Homo sapiens: one gene and its partners. The protein of the gene in region 1 purifies or fractionates together with the protein of each later gene. This does not show direct contact. Each region holds a gene or a part of one and is shown in the gene's direction. Other genes may lie near its edges.

Region 1 (3,767 bases):
ATTTATTTATTTATTGAGGCAGGGTTTTGCTCTGTTACCCGGGCTGGAGTGCAGTGGCACAGTCACAGCTCACAGTAGCCTCGACCTCCCTGGGCCTAGGTGATCCTCTTACCTTAGCCTCCTGAGTAGCTGGGACTGCAGGCATGCACCACCACACCCACATAATTAAAAAAATTTTCTTTGTAGAGACAGAGTCTCCCTGTGTTGCCTGGCTGGTCTGGAATTCCTGGCCTTAAGGGATCTACCCACCTGGGCCTCCCAAAGTGCTGTGATTATAGATGTGAGCCACCACGCCTGGCCCACCCTGGGTTTTGACAACCAAAAATGTCTCCTTACATTGTCAAATGTTCCCTCAGGGGTTGAGCAGGGGGATAGCAATCACTGTGTAGAGGCAGTTAGAATAATATTACACCTGCTGTGATTTAAGTGAGCTCAGGCCCTGGGGACCAGGGCTGAATCCTGGAGGGAGCAGCCTCCAGGCCAAGGCCTGAATCTAATTGAGGTTTTTTTTGATTGCTAAAACCAGGTTTCTTTTAAAGTCTGGCAACCTCTACAGTGCTTAAAATGAGAGGGTTTATTTGAATCATGATTCTGTGATACTAGAGCTGGAAGGGACCCTAAAACCCAATGTCTTCAACGCCTTCCTGGTTCAGAGAGGAAAGTAGGAGCGACAGGGCTAGAATTCAGGACTCCCACCTCCCAGCTCAGCTCACTGTCCCCACACGCCGTCCACATAGACACAGTTGCCACGTTTGATTCAACTTCTCTATGGTGACTTGGTTACTCAGAGCCCCTTTTGTGGTGGGACCCACTGTGACCTTAGCTGCCCATTATGTTCCTAGGGCTTCGGGTCTCACCTGTGAATTGATGGCATCCTTTAACCAGTGCTTTGCAATCTCTCTCTTTAGTCCGCAACCATCCCTCTGTTCATGCGAAACAAAGATGTCGCTGCAGAAGCGGTGAGTGCCTCGGGTATGTGCAGCCTGTCCTCGTGTTCTCCCTCAGATGAACTCTGAGGAAGAAAGGGAAACCAAAACTCTCTGTTTGCAGGTCACAGGTAGTGGCAAAACACTCGCTTTTGTCATCCCCATCCTGGAAATTCTTCTGAGAAGAGAAGAGAAGTTAAAAAAGAGTCAGGTGAGGACAACAAAAGTGATTTATTTTCACCTAGTCATCAGAGAGTTCACATTGGATTAAGAAGCTGGCTACAAATGTGAAAAAATAGGCCAGAAGCCGTGGCTCACGCCTGTAATCCCAGCACTTTGGGAGACTGAGTCTGGAGGATCACTGGAGTCCAGGAGTTTGAGACCAGCCTGGGCAACACAGTGAGACTTCATCTCTACAAATAATGAATGAATGAAACTTGAAAAAAAAAGACAGTTAATCCTCATTATTTGTGGATTCTGTATTTGTGAATTTGCCTGCTCGTTAAAATTTAGAACACCCCAGTGGATCCTCGGTGCTTCTGTGGTCATGGGCGTGGGCAGAGCTGCCTTTGTTTTCACTGCTCAGGTGTAAACAGTGTCCTTTTCGTCATTTATTTAGTGCCATGTTTTTTACCTTTTTTTTTTTTTTCTTTTTTCCCTGAGACAGGGTTTTGCTCTGTCACCCAGGCTGGAGTGCAGTGGTGTGATCTCATCTCACTGCAACCTCCACCTCCCAGGCTTAAGCTGTCCTCCTGCCTCAGCCTTCCAAGTAGCTGGGACTACAGGTGTGGACCATCATGTCTGGGTCATTTTTTGTATTTTTTGACATGTTACCCAGGCTGGTCTTAAACTCCTGGGCTCAAGTGATCCTTCCGCCTCGGCCTCCCAAAGTGCTGGGATTACAGGTGTGAGCTACCGCGCCCGGCCATTTTGCACATTTTTGTGCTTTATGTTGGTGATTTTGGTTTTTGAAATGGCCCCGTGATGTAGTGCAGTCTAGTGTTCCTGGGTGCAAGAAGGTTATGACGTGCAGAGAAAATCCCTGTGCTAGAGAAGCACAAGCTAAGGCATGAGTTAATGTGCTGTTGGCCACGAGTTCAATGAGAATGAATCAATAGTATATGTTAAATAGAGTCTTTTAAGCACAAACAGACATAAAATAGGTTTATGTATTGATTGGTTGACAAAAATGTCATGCCCAAAGACTGGCAGGAACCTAACCCTGTGTTTCCCCTGTGAGCAGTGGTTCAGCATTGACTAATTCACTGTTCTTCATGACTTGAAAGAGCATAACTGCAGTATATGATGACGAGTAACCGTAATTCAAAGTAGTTGATATGTGCTCAGAGATGCTGCTGAGAAAGTCTGGGAACTACTGTTTCTCTGGAACTTTCCTTTGTGTGGTAGAGGGCGGAGGGCCTATGAGTTCCTCTCTGGGAGTCCCTTGTGCTGCTGACTGTGTCCCTTCCTTCCATGTGGGTAGGTTGGAGCCATAATCATCACCCCCACTCGAGAGCTGGCCATTCAAATAGACGAGGTCCTGTCGCATTTCACGAAGCACTTCCCCGAGTTCAGGTGAATTGGATGCAGTGTCCCTGTTAGTCATGGGCTGTTTTGTCGAACTTAATCAAAGGCTGTTTTCTTGTTGTAGCCAGATTCTTTGGATCGGAGGCAGGAATCCTGGAGAAGATGTTGAGAGGTTTAAGCAACAAGGGTGAGTTTGCTCGTGTCTGCTTGTTTCTTTGCTTGCTTTTGGCATTGAACCTAAGAATCGATGTGTGATCTCAGCCTAACTGTGGGTCCCCCTTTCAGCAGCCTCCTCCCCCTGCAAAAAGGTGTTTTCTCCAGGCCAGCTTCCCATTGTGCTTTGCTGGCTCCTTCCCATAAGGCCCTGATGAGAACTTCACAAACTCAGGTTCTTACAGAGGTCAAGAGAACGACGTGAAGATAAATGAGTGGTCAGGGGCTGGGGGATGGTGAGGAACTGGCCAGCAGCTGCCTTGAATACTCAGCTCCAGCTGGTAGTTGCCTGGGAGGACTCGGCTCAGTAGTGGCAGGTTTTGAATTTTTTAAAAAGAAGATGGAATTCCAGATTTGTGTGTGTAATCTCCTGATTTTTTAACTGTTGGCGTGTAATCCACATTTGAAAAACATATCTTGTAGGTGAGCCAGTCTGAGGGAGCCACATCTGGCCCTGAGTCTGCCAGTTTGTGATCTTTACATAGGATTCTCTAATTCTGTCAACATTTCCATTTTACAAGTGAGTTACCTGGGACCTACAATGGTTGAGTAACTTGCGTAAGTCAGAGGTTGGTAAGCTTTTTTTTTATAAAGGAGCAGATGGTAAATGTTTTCGGCTTTGTGAACCATATGGTCTCCATCGCACTTACTCAACTGCTGTTGTAGTGTGAAGGCAGCGATAGACAACATGTGAATAAATGGGCGTGGTTTTCTGCCAATAAAATACTTGGCAAGGACAGGCAGCAGCCCAGGTTTGGTCCGGGAGCTGGAGTTTGCCAACCTTGCCTAGGTCATAGCCCAGAACCCAGATCCCGTCTCACCACAGCCCTCAGTCTTTCTACCCTGCAGCACTCTTCTACTCTCATGCTCTTCGTTCTCTTCACTAGGGCTTAAATGACTTTGGGGGGATATAAAACTTGGTATTTTGGTAATCATCAACCACATTCCCAAGATCCAGAGAGTTTGGTAAATGTTAACTTTCTTTCCAAAGTGGGAACATCATTGTGGCCACTCCAGGCCGCTTGGAGGACATGTTCCGGAGGAAGGCCGAAGGCTTGGATCTGGCCAGCTGTGTGCGATCCCTGGATGTCCTGGTGTTGG
Region 2 (4,305 bases), on another chromosome or scaffold:
ATCTGTAGTTTAAATAGGATTTGTGCTCCGTATGCTGAGCGCCGGTCCACTGGGCCCACTTTTCTTTCTCTATACTTTGCCTCTGTGTCTCTTTTTTTTCTCAGTCTCTCATCCCACCCGATGAGAAACACCCACAGGTGTGGAGCGGCAGGCCACCCCTTCACTATTTACATAGTATTTACATTGTATTAGATGTTATAAGTAATCTAGAGATGATTTAAAGTATATGGGAGGATGTGCATAGGTTATATGCAAATATTACACCATTGTGAAAGTTGCAGAATCAAAATGGAGTCACTTGTGTCAAAACCCTGATAAATGCAGCTGGGGAAGGCCTTGAAGGAAGGGTTCTCATGCACTACGCCTCATAACAAGAATTGTCACAAAAGACCCTAACCTTGCAGAAAGGCCCAATCTTAAACACAGAAAATCCTTCTGCAAGGACATCTGTCCAGCAACTTTGGACTGATGCTACCTTTGTTATTCATTCTTTTAGCCAAAGATAATTGATTTAAAGCAATTCATATAATCTTCATTTTCCTTTTAAAAACATCTCCTTGCCTCAACCTCCCCCAAAACGCACACAGTTTACTATGGCATGCATATTCCCATTGCAATGCTACTCCCAGATAAATCTCATTTTCTTTTAGGGAGCCTCTTTTGTTACTTAGGTTTACACCATTGTATACAAGGGACTTGAGCATTCTAATTCTGGTATCCGCAGGGTCCTGGAACCATTCCCCCACGGACACTAAGGGACAACTGTACTTGTTTTTCATGACAGAAAACATGTTTAGGAGTACTAATTTTTTTTCCCCCATAGAAGATTTCCATAGAAGGGTTTTGGAGAGAGACACCACAGGAACATGCTATCAGCATGATTTCTTCCTGATGTTATCCTTGACCACCCGGTAAGGTACTGTTTGCCAGGTTTCTCCACTGTAGTCCCCAACACCATTCCAGGCTGTACTCTTTGGAATCAAGTTACTAGGCATAGCCCATAATCAAAGTGGGGGTGGGTGGGGCAGAAATCGAGCTCCCGCTATTGGAAGAAGGGGTATTTAGATATATTATTTAGAATTTTCCTGTGAGGCGGGTCCTGGGGCCAGAATGAAACGGTGGAATGGGGGCGGGGATTGGCGAGCAAAGTGACTCGACCCGGCAAACCCAGCCTGGCAGGAAAGCCCGAGGTCTGGGCGAACAGGGCCGCGCGCCCTAGGTGGTTTAACTTCGTAAGGAAAGACTCCGCAGGCCGGCTTTTCAGTGCGCAGCTTGCTCGCCTGCGGGTTACTGGGTTTTCTGACCCCTGACTCGACGTAGGGGTTATGGGGCTGTGGGTGTGCCGACCTCGTCCCCGACTGTACTGGGCGTTGGCGGCGAGTCCGCGAACACTGCGCATGCGCGAGCCGGAAGCTGCCGCCCGCGGCGGAAGGGGCGGACCCGGGAGACTGAGGACTTGGATTGCTTAAGGACACCAGGCAGGCGCGACAGCCTTCAGCCTCTCCCTCTGCAGTTTTGGCCGGTTCCTTTAACTTGCCTTCATCTGGGGCTGTTTGGTATTTCCACGTGCCTTGGGCCCGCCCACTGCAGCCTCCATCTTGGAAGCGGCCGCCGGCGCCTAGGTGAGCTAGTAGGACTTCCGGGTCGGGCCTCCAGTTGCCCGGGTAACGGGAGCAGAGTCGGCGGGGTGCGTTCCTTAGTCTTTCATTCATCAGCGTAAAAAGAACTGAGTTTAGGTCGCAGGTCCCCTCCAGGGCAGGCATTATCGTGTGCGCTGCAGTAACCTCTCATCTTGTGGAGTCCTACACTTAGCGCATGTTGCTCCGGCGCGCTGCGTAAAGCTGAGGAGCCTGAGGCCCGAGGTCCGATGCTCGCCTGGCTGGCCTATGGCTGCGGGAGCGGTGTGTGTCGGACCGTAGGACGGCCTCACGGCTAGAGTTTGAGGACTATGGGGGCGGGGACGGTGCCTGTGTCTGTGGCGGTCACCGGGCTTCACGTGGTCCTCAGCAGGGTGATGGTGGACAGCTCGCGCGAGGGCCCGGGAGTCTTGGGGACACTTCCCGGCGCGGTCTGTGGACTGAGCGCTGGGACCCGCACCGAACCAGCCGCCGTTCGCCTCTGGAGCTGGACATGCCGACTTTCGTTAGGTCAAATAATGAACCTTATACTGCGGAAGTGCGGTATTAATATTGCCTGGAGTTCTTGTCTCTTGCTCATTTCTGCCCTCGTATGTTTTAGAAGTAGATTTATTTTTTATTTTTATTTTTTTAATTTATTTTTTGTGACAGAGTCTCGCTCTGTCGCCCAGGTTGGAGTGCAGTGGCGTGATCTCGTCTAGCTGCAGCTTCCGCCTCCTGAGATCAAGCGATTCTCCTGCCTCAGCCTCCCCAGTAGCTGGTATTACAGGTGCCTGCCACCACGCCCGGCTGATTTTTGTATTTTTAGTAGAGACGGGGTTTCACCATGTTGGCCAGGCTGGTCTTGAACTCCTGACCTCAGCCCGCCTCGGGCTCCCAAAGTGCTGGTTTTACAGGCGTGAGCCACTGTACCCAGCCATTATTTTATTTTTATTTATGTATTTATTTTTTTATTTTTTTGAGACGGAGCCTCGCTCTGTCGCCCAGGCTGGAGTGCAGTAGCGCGATCTCGGCTCACTGCAACCTCCGCCTCCCAGGTTCAAGCGATTCTCCTGCCTCAGCCTCCCAAGTAGCTGGGATTACAGGCGTGTGCCACCACGCCTAGCTATTTTTTGTATTTTTAGTAGATTAAGCTGTAGTCACTAGGTCTGCAAGATAAAACTGTTTTAGAGGGACTGATATAATGGGAATTCTGTTACTGTAGGGATCATGATTTAGCTCACAGTATAAACGTTTCATGTACAAAAGCACTTGAGAGAAACAGTTTACCAAAACATACATTTGTATACTTAAAGGTACAAAGAACAGTGATTATCATATAACTGGAAAGTAAATCAAAGAAATGTTTTTTATTTTAGATTGAGCATTTCCACAGAAATTACAGTTTTGTCCTTTTTGAAAAAATAGAACTGTATTTCAGAAAAAAGAAACTACAGTTTTAGCATGCAGAAAGGAAAAGGGAGAACAAGCCGGATCAGAAGACGAAAACTCTGCGGAAGTTCTGAATCAAGAGGAGGTATGGTTTTTCTTTTAGTACCAGTAATGAAAAAAGAAATCCTTTTGTGATTGCTTGTTTGTTCATACGTAGCTTTTCTTTCTTTCTTTCTTTTTTCTGAGACGGATTCTCGCTCTGTCACCCAGGCTGGAGTGCAGTGGTGTCATCTTGGCTCACTGCAACCTCTGCTTCCCCGGTTCAAGCGATTCTCCTGCCTCAGCCTCCCAAGTAGCTGGGACTACAGGCGTGAGCCAGCATGCTCGGCCTAACACATAGCTTTTCTCAAAGGCACACAGTGTTCAAAGAGAATCTTTCTTTTTTTTTTTTTTTTGGAGACAAGGTACATTCTGTTACCCAGATTGGAATGCAGTGGCGTGATCATGGCTTGATCTCCCAGGCTCAAGTGATCTCCTCCCTTAGCCTCCCTCCTGCCTCAGCCTCCCAAGTACCTGGGACTACAGGTACATGCCACTGCACCCGGCTAATGTTTTTTTAAATTTGTTGTAGTGACAGGGTCTATGTTGCACAGGCTGGTCTTGAACTCCTGGGCTCGAGTGGTCCTCCTGCCTTGGCCTCCCCAAAGCACTGGGATTACAGGTGTGAGCCACTGTGCCCAGCCCAAAGAGAATATTTCTTAAATAACACTCTTTTTTAATGGTGCCATTGTATTCTTTTAGATCCTGGTGGGAATGTGAAGATAACTAACTCATTGTTTCAACTGTCTTCTCTGGGGATGACTCCCAACTTTCTTTTTCTGGTCTTGACCTTCAGCTATCTGTAGGATATCAATGTTTGGATGTAAATTTATGACTTCAAATTCAGGGTAACCCTGTCTGAAGAAGATACTGTATCTTGTTCAATACAAAAGTGCTTGGCCATCTGGAAAGTCCTATGTAAATCCAACTGGATATGGTACAAGATATCGATAAGCTCACTTTTTTTTTTGCTGATGGAGGTCCAGTTGTTTGATCATCATTTATTGAAAAGACTATCTTCTTCCACTGATTTGCCTTTGCACTTTGTCAAAAATTTACGTGTGGACCTCTTCCTATTTTCTGTGTTGTTCCTTTGACCTATTTGTGTCTGTTTTGACAATATCACACTAATTTGATTACTGTAGCTTTATAATAAGTTTTAAAATCAATCTTTCAAAGATATTGGGGCTATTCTAGG
Region 3 (3,767 bases), on another chromosome or scaffold:
CATGCCGGTGCATGAGCCACTGTCCCCGCAGCAGCTGCAGCAGCAGGACATGTACAACAAGAAGATCCCCTCCTTGTTTGAGATCGTGGTGCGGCCCACGGGACAGCTGGCTGAGAAGCTGGGTGTGAGGTGAGTGCCCTGGACCCCCGTGACAGGCAGTGGGCGCTGTCCTGGGCCCAGCCAGGCTCCTCTTGTTAGGGCAAGCCTGGCTGTGGGAGAGTCCTGCCTCTCTCCCCAGCTGTGGGAGTCCTGGTCTGGGGCCCATGACCTTCGGCTCTGCAGCCCTCCGCCTCTCCTCTGGGGTGTGGCCACTGCCCTCCTCGGCAGCTTCCGTCACAGGCACCTTTTCCCTCTTCTAGGTTCCCTGGACCCGGTGGACCCCCAGGGCCAATGGGCCCTGGGCCCAACATGGGACCCCCAGGGCCAATGGGCGGTCCAATGCATCCTGACATGCACCCCGACATGCACCCGGACATGCACCCTGACATGCACGCAGACATGCACGCAGACATGCCGATGGGCCCTGGCATGAATCCTGGCCCACCCATGGGCCCTGGCGGCCCTCCAATGATGCCCTACGGCCCTGGAGACTCCCCACATTCTGGAATGATGCCCCCTATCCCGCCAGCCCAGAACTTCTATGAAAACTTCTACCAGCAGCAGGAGGGCATGGAGATGGAGCCCGGACTCCTGGGGGATGCAGGTATGCGGGACTCCAGGTGTGGCTGCCTGGGGCTGCAGGCTTTACCCAGTGGAGCAGAGTTGGGGAGATGTGATTTTTCTTCCTTCGTCCAAGTCTCTTTGAAAGCATGACTCCATCTCTGTCCCATTTAATGGTTGAATGTTTTCAGTGACATAGGATGTATTCTGTTGAAGAAGAAAGGAGTATTCTGTGTATTACCAATATAGGTTATTTCTTTTTAATTTTGCAAGCTGTGCCTGGAATCGGAAGCATGGGAAGTTAGAGGGACGAGTGTGCAAGGGTGTGAGGCTGAGAGGCTGGTGGGCCCATCAGGACTCAGTTAGTGGCCTGGCCAAAACCATCTCTTTCCGGGCAGTTCTCGGCTTGGAGCAACCAGTGTCCACCCCAGGACTCTGCGGGTTCTGTGCCCATTACCGGCCGTTTTCCTGCCTTTTTTTCCTTTTGCATTGGTAACAAATGTCCAGTGAGCAGAGGGGTTTAGATGACGCTGCTGCAGCCATAGGAGATGTGGTGTGCAGCCCTCTGGAGGAGGGCCAGGCACGAGAGGCCACCACTGTCCTCGCTCAGTTGCATCTTGGTGGAAACAAGCAGGTGGCAAGCGTGTAGATAGAGGAGTTGGCTCCTTTCAGCATTGGCCATTCTTAGAAGAAAAGGTGGGGAACCGTGGCGGTGGGCCAGAAGGCTCAGTGCCTCAGTGGGGATAGTCACAAAAGTCTCTTTGAGAAGTGAAGCGGCACTCACAACGTGAGGAATGATGGGACCTCCGAGGGCAGCGGGTGGGGGCGCTGTGTTGAACTGGGGGAGCTGCTGTGGCAGCTGCTGGGGGCTGTCCCTGGGCAGAGGCAGCAGGGCGGCCACTGGAGTGCAAGGCAGGGCTTCGAGGTTTGGACACGGTGCCGTGGGGCAGTGGGAGCCCCGTGTTTGTTTTGCAAGGTGGGCAGGAGCGGCATTGAGGATGGGGCGCTGGACGTGCGGCATAGTCACTCTAGGGTGCCTGCCCCTCCGACGGCCATGTGGAAATTTTGAGGGGGTGGTTTAAGGGGCATTGGGAGAGGCCCAGGCTAGAGATCAAAATGTGAACGTGGGCTTTGGCTTTAGGTGGTGCATGGACCTGGGAGAGCAGGTACTTGGGTGAGAGTGGGTGCTTTAGAAAGAAAGACGAGAAAAACAGGCTGCCACAGTAGGTGCTGGGGTTCTCAGCTCCTCCCCCTTCAACAAATGCGTCTAAAAGGTGCACGGGAAAAGCTCTGCTGGCGGGGCACCAGAAGTCCGTCACGTTGGTAGCAGTAGGTGTCTCTAGAATAATCCCATTTCATAAAATCCTCCCTCTAACATGTATGGTCATTGGTTTCTGGTGTGTGCACAGACTGTGTGTGAAGGGGGACCCTCGGCTGTCTGGTTCATGGAGTGGGTCCCAGCTCTGCGCTGGGATGTGTCATAGAGCAGGCTGGCCCATCAGGTTCACTTGACGAAGTTGAAATTAATGTAAGCTAAGTTACAAGTGCACTTTTCTAGACACCACGTTTTAAATGCTCAGCTGCCCCAGGAGGATCTAGGCGGCCACATGTTGCCCTGCAGATCTAGAACATTTCCATCACTGCAGAGCGTTCTGTGGGGCAGCACTGACTCCAGACGCCCCCCCCTCCGTTTCGGTGATTCGATGTCTCCCATGCTCACATGTGTCACACACGCAACATGCAGGAGGCGTCGCCGAGCCTGCCCTCCCCTCTACGCCTGCTGCGTCCCCACGTCAGCCTGTGCTGCTGCCCACAGCTCTTGGCTCAGGCACTGGGGGAGTGTGTGGGGTGAGGTGGCTGGTGCCAGTGCCCACGCTGCAGGAGGTGGAGGCCCCGTGCTTCCTGAGACACCCCCTAATGCTGTGGAGTGGGCAGGGAGGCACTCTGGAACTGCTGTTGACCTGTGGCCAGAGCAGCACTTGACCCGTTTCATTCTCTTTTCCTGGCTTTTAGTGTTGAACATGGTCGAGTTCACTATGAGATGCATGGTGTTTCCTTACTGATTGTTAGAAAGAAACCGTGCAACTCCTATCCATCCAAAATAATTTAAAAGTACAGGAAAGAGTACAGAAATCCCTGGCCTCTCCAGAATCTGTGTTCCAGAGGGACTGTTTCTGTGTGTCTTTTCAAAGCTTTCTCCTTGCGTCTTACAAACGTACATCCAATGTTCCATCCTGTTTCCACCTCATAAGCGTTTGCCCGCATCACTCAACCCTCTCTGTGAACCTCATTCTTCATGTAGGCGGGGCTACCCATGGGCCGCTCTGTTCCCCTGAGACCTGGGGAGGGCAGGCAGGGGCAGGCTGTGCGTCCTTCTCCATCGCCATCGGTGTGGGTTTGCAGTGAGGGGCAGGGGGGCTGGAGTTGGCACCTGGAGGCCCTTCCCGACATGAACCCTCGGTTCTTCCCTGCCACAGAGGACTACGGGCACTACGAAGAGCTGCCAGGGGAGCCTGGGGAGCACCTCTTCCCTGAGCACCCTCTGGAGCCCGACAGCTTCTCTGAGGGAGGGCCCCCAGGCCGGCCGAAGCCAGGCGCCGGTGTCCCTGACTTCCTGCCCTCAGCCCAGAGGGCCCTGTACCTGAGGATCCAGCAGAAGCAGCAGGAGGAGGAGGAGAGAGCGAGGAGGCTGGCTGAGAGCAGCAAGCAGGACCGGGAGAATGAGGAAGGCACGTGTCCGCCCCAGGGGCCGGGGCACAGGCCCCAGGCCGCTGTGCAGGGGAGCGGCGGTGGTGGGGTGTTCCAGGTTGGGTTTCCTGTCAGGAAGGAGCCCATGGCTAGGGAGGACCCCTGTCCAGGGCCATGAAGCCGGGCTGGGGCTGCTGCATGTCCCTGAGAAAACTGGCAGTCAGGGGTGGCTTTCTGTGTTGGGTTCAGGAGAGACCCTGATCCCATGGAGTAGGATGGAGGGCTAGTTCCTGGAGGAGACAGTGGCCAACAGGATTGACCGCCTGTGCCCTGCCAGAGGAGGCTTTAGGGAGACCCTCACAGCCCCTGTTTTCCTACCGTGTTCTCAAGGAGCCAACAAACAAGAGCTAGTCATTGAA
Region 4 (3,767 bases), on another chromosome or scaffold:
CAGTTTAGTATTAAAAGCAATTCACTGCAGCTAACTTTATATCTAAGGCCTTCTTCAGCTTTAGCCCTTTATGGGGCAAACTGGTGACCAAAAAAGAAAGCCTTCTTACAAAGTGGCTTTTTTTTTTTTTTTTTGAGGAGACTAGCTCGTTTGAAACCTTCGCAACACCTGTCAGTCCCTTCTCACTGCCTAAATAGCCCTTTCCTCTTCTGAGGCCAGCAGTCTGAATTTAGAGAAGAGATCAGGTTAGATTTCATTAAATGCTTGCTTTTCTTTCAGCTTGTCAGTCATTGCAAAAGCCTCCACCGTTTCCAGGTTACTGGACAGTCTTTTTTTTTTTGAGATGGAGTTTCACTCTTGTTGCTCAGGCTGTTTTGCAGTGTTGCGATCTCGGCTCCCTGCGGCCTCTGCCTCCCAGGTTCAAGCGATTCTCCTGCCTCAGCCTCCCGAGTAGCTGGGATTACAGGCATCAGCCACCATACCCAGTTAATTTTTTGTATTTTCAGTAGAAACAGGGTTTCACCATGTTGGCTAGGATGGTCTCAAACTCCTAACCTCAGGTGATTCACCCGCCTCGGCCTCCTGAAGTGCTGGGATTACGGGCATGAGCCACTGCGCCCAGCCTGGACAGTCTTGATGGGAGGATGATCATTGCCCTGTTGTTGCTCTGACAGTGTGAGCTGTGGCTCAAGAAGGTAGCTTTGGTTTTACTGATCATAATGTGGAGATGCAGAAACTCTAACACATAAGTGTGATGTATGGTGTGACTTATTCCTAGCCAAATGTAACTCCAGTGGATTATTTACAGTTTCTTCTTTTATTTCCAAAAGGTCATAATCATCACCTGATATTTTATTTTCTTTTATATATATATATAGAATTCAGCATTTTATGTGGATAGTGAGTTATTGGTTCGAGCCCTTCAAGAGCTGCCTCTCTGCCTCCGACTCAACGTTGCTGCCGAACTGGTCCAGGTAAAAATCCCGAAGCCCTCTTGAAGCGGGTGGATTAGGGCAGGAGGAGAAAAAGAGGGGAACACTTCCCTCAGCAGGATGTCTCAGTGTCAGCTTCCCTTTATAAAAGTGAGGGTTTCATATCAAGGTAGCATTTTGTAAAGTTTAAAGGAGAATCCAAAAATTTTTTGAAGTTACTTTTTTATATTTTATATTTGAAACATTTTAAAGGATCAAATGTAGTGGAATTGAGTGAAATGTAAAATATAAAGTCTGGCTATTTTACTCAAAATATTTACGCATCACGCTCTATGTTCGGCACTAGGGACACAGTGGTGAACAGACAGATGTCGTTCCTGCCTTTCTGGAACTTAATCTATTGGGAAGGATGAATATTAATCAAATAGTCACACAAACATATACAAATTGTAATACATCCTGTGAAGTACAGTGTGCTTTTAGAGTAAATCAGTTTCTGGTGTGGTGTGGTTAGGAATGGCTTTCTGAAGCAGTGATAGATGAGCTGAGGTCTAAAGCATAAGGACATTTGAGCTGGCATTTAAACGAGAAAGACCCAGTCAGCTTTGCGTTAATAAAAACGATGGGGCTGCCAAGTAGAGAAGACTGTGGGATTGGAGTGCATGTGTGGGGGTAAGTCTGCATGTGCACATACACATGCACAGAGCAGGTGAGGGAGGCACATGGGGAGGCTGTTGTACAGGTGCAGGTGAGTAGTACTGTAGCTTGGACTACAGTAATGACGGTGGAGATGGCAGAGGAGAGGGCTGTACTGAGGTACTTCAAAGGTACAATTAACAGGATTTGACGGTATATTGGAAATTGGGAGAGAGTGGTCAAGAAAAAATTCAAGACTTTGTAGATTGTGCAACTCAGTGGTAGGATCAGGAAGGGTGAGTTTTGGACTTTATGAGTTTGTGCCTCTGAGATATCCAAGTGGAAATAACAGTCAACTGAATGCTGAACTTTATAGTTCTACATCAAGGGCTAGAAATACAAATTCAGGAGATAACAGGATGAAGTGATAATTGATGAACTAAGAGAGGGGGAGGCCCAAAGATTATGCCATGAAGAACTTCAACATTCTGGCACGATCAAAAAAAAAAAAAAAAGTGAAACCTTGGGACGTACTGATTTTAAGTAGAATCCTAGCAACTGAAATTATCAACTTCCTTCTGTGGGTGAATGTGATGCTAAGCTTGAGCATAGTAATGAATTGGTTACCCATTCATTTGCTGTATAGCATTTACTAGTCTAAAATTTGGGACAGCAGGCAGAGTTCAGGGATGGAGGACAGTTAGGGACAGGGTAGAGAACTAGAAAGAATTACATTTGCCTCTGATGGGGGATTGCCCTGGGGGTTCTTTGGAAACATTTGGGGGTGTTTGGGAGAGCACTAGTGGCTCTTCTGCTGATGTCCAGTGATGTTCAAAGTTCTGAAGTGCTTGGCTTGATCTCATATGATGAGGAATGTTTAGCAGAACTCACCAGGGAAATGCTGAGATAAAGGATTCAGGACTCAGGACAGAGAGGAAGTGGTTGTGAGTGTTTGAAGTGAAGGTTGTAATGTCAGTGGCAGGCATTAAAGGTATAAAATAATTATGTGACATTGAAATCCTGGCTAAATCACTTAGAAACATTTCTCCCCCACCCATGCTGTAGAGCAGTATTCTCTACCTTGTTTGCACATTAGAATCACCTGGGGAGTTAAAAACAAACAAAAACAAGGCCAGACACCCACCCCAGAACAATTAAATGACTCTAAGATTAGAATAGAGGACCATGTCCCAGCTTTGCCCTGTACAACTGACTGACTCTGCTGGATATTTATTCCTGTTTGTATATAAAGCCATACCGTCTTACATGTCTGCTCAGGATGTTTATGTAAAAATAAGGGGTCAGGACCTCCAGTAGAGGTTGAACTTCTGAACCTGCCCACTGTGAGGCCTTGCTCATCCCTGGAGCCTTCCCTCGAGAGCGGTGATTCTCAGCCTTAGATTATAACCTTGTATTACAATCACCGGGGGAGTTTGTAACTTTTATTAAAGTATAACATCGATTCAGAAAAGTGCACATGTAAGTATACATGGAATGAGCATCCGGATAAAGACTTAGAATATTGTCAGCACCTCAGAAGCCACCATTCATACACACTCCACGTCACTCTCTCCCCAAAAGGCACTCGCTCACCTAACTTCTAATACCGTAGCTTTTGAACTTTTTACAAATACAATCATCAAATAGTGTATTTTCTTTTGTGTCTGGCATTTTTTACCAAGGAGAGTCTTGGTGAATTTGTTACTGCACCTTTATATTAGTGCACTTAAATACAATGAACAGATCTGATTTGCTAATTACTTCCTGGTGACTTTTTTTTTTTTTTTTTTTTTTTTGAGACGGAGTCTCATTCTGTTGCCCAGGCTCGAGTGCAGTGGTACAATCTCAGCTTACTGCAAGCTCCGCCTCCCAGGTTCACGCCATTCTCCTGCCTCAGCCTCCCGAGTAGCTGGGACTAGACACTCTCCACCACTCCTGGCTAATTTTTTTGTTTTTTGTTTGTTTGTTTGTTTGTTTGTTTAGTAGAGACAGGGTTTCACCATGTTAGCCAGGATGGTCTCAATCTCCTGACCTCATGATCCACCCACCTTGGCCTCCCAAAGTGCTGGGATTACAGGCATGAGCCACTGCGCCTGGCCACTTCTTGGTGACTTTTTATAGATGTTCATGTCTTAATACAGATTTAAGTGTAAAGCCAAATAGACCTATGGTACTGGCAGTTTTCAGGCCAGGGCTAGG

The links.
Region 2: the proteins of DDX55 (region 1) and SETD4 fractionate together in Homo sapiens (co-fractionation; one large-scale study listed by BioGRID). This does not show direct contact.
Region 3: the proteins of DDX55 (region 1) and ZC3H4 purify together in Homo sapiens (affinity purification with mass spectrometry; one large-scale study listed by BioGRID and IntAct). This does not show direct contact.
Region 4: the proteins of DDX55 (region 1) and AVEN purify together in Homo sapiens (affinity purification with mass spectrometry; one large-scale study listed by BioGRID and IntAct). This does not show direct contact.

What each region holds. Positions count from the first base shown.
Region 1 is NC_000012.12:123,605,023-123,608,789, forward strand, and holds part of DDX55 (ATP-dependent RNA helicase DDX55), read left to right. Parts: exon of another isoform or gene 1-908; coding exon 909-959; exon of another isoform or gene 960-1,005; coding exon of another isoform or gene 1,006-1,050; coding exon 1,051-1,137; intron 1,138-2,409; coding exon 2,410-2,501; intron 2,502-2,577; coding exon 2,578-2,640; intron 2,641-3,657; coding exon 3,658-3,767. UniProt on the Homo sapiens protein: Probable ATP-binding RNA helicase. Has ATPase activity and is involved in the maturation of precursor large subunit rRNAs.
Region 2 is NC_000021.9:36,057,664-36,061,968, reverse strand, and holds the start of SETD4 (SET domain-containing protein 4), read left to right. Parts: upstream 1-1,442; 5' UTR 1,443-1,622; exon of another isoform or gene 1,623-2,147; intron 2,148-2,995; exon of another isoform or gene 2,996-3,044; 5' UTR 3,045-3,080; coding exon 3,081-3,153; intron 3,154-4,305. UniProt on the Homo sapiens protein: Protein-lysine N-methyltransferase that methylates both histones and non-histone proteins. Via its catalytic activity, regulates many processes, including cell proliferation, cell differentiation, inflammatory response and apoptosis.
Region 3 is NC_000019.10:47,068,714-47,072,480, reverse strand, and holds part of ZC3H4 (zinc finger CCCH domain-containing protein 4), read left to right. Parts: coding exon 1-129; intron 130-359; coding exon 360-703; intron 704-3,137; coding exon 3,138-3,389; intron 3,390-3,767. UniProt on the Homo sapiens protein: RNA-binding protein that suppresses transcription of long non-coding RNAs (lncRNAs). LncRNAs are defined as transcripts more than 200 nucleotides that are not translated into protein.
Region 4 is NC_000015.10:33,868,142-33,871,908, reverse strand, and holds part of AVEN (cell death regulator Aven), read left to right. Parts: intron 1-878; coding exon 879-974; intron 975-3,767. UniProt on the Homo sapiens protein: Protects against apoptosis mediated by Apaf-1.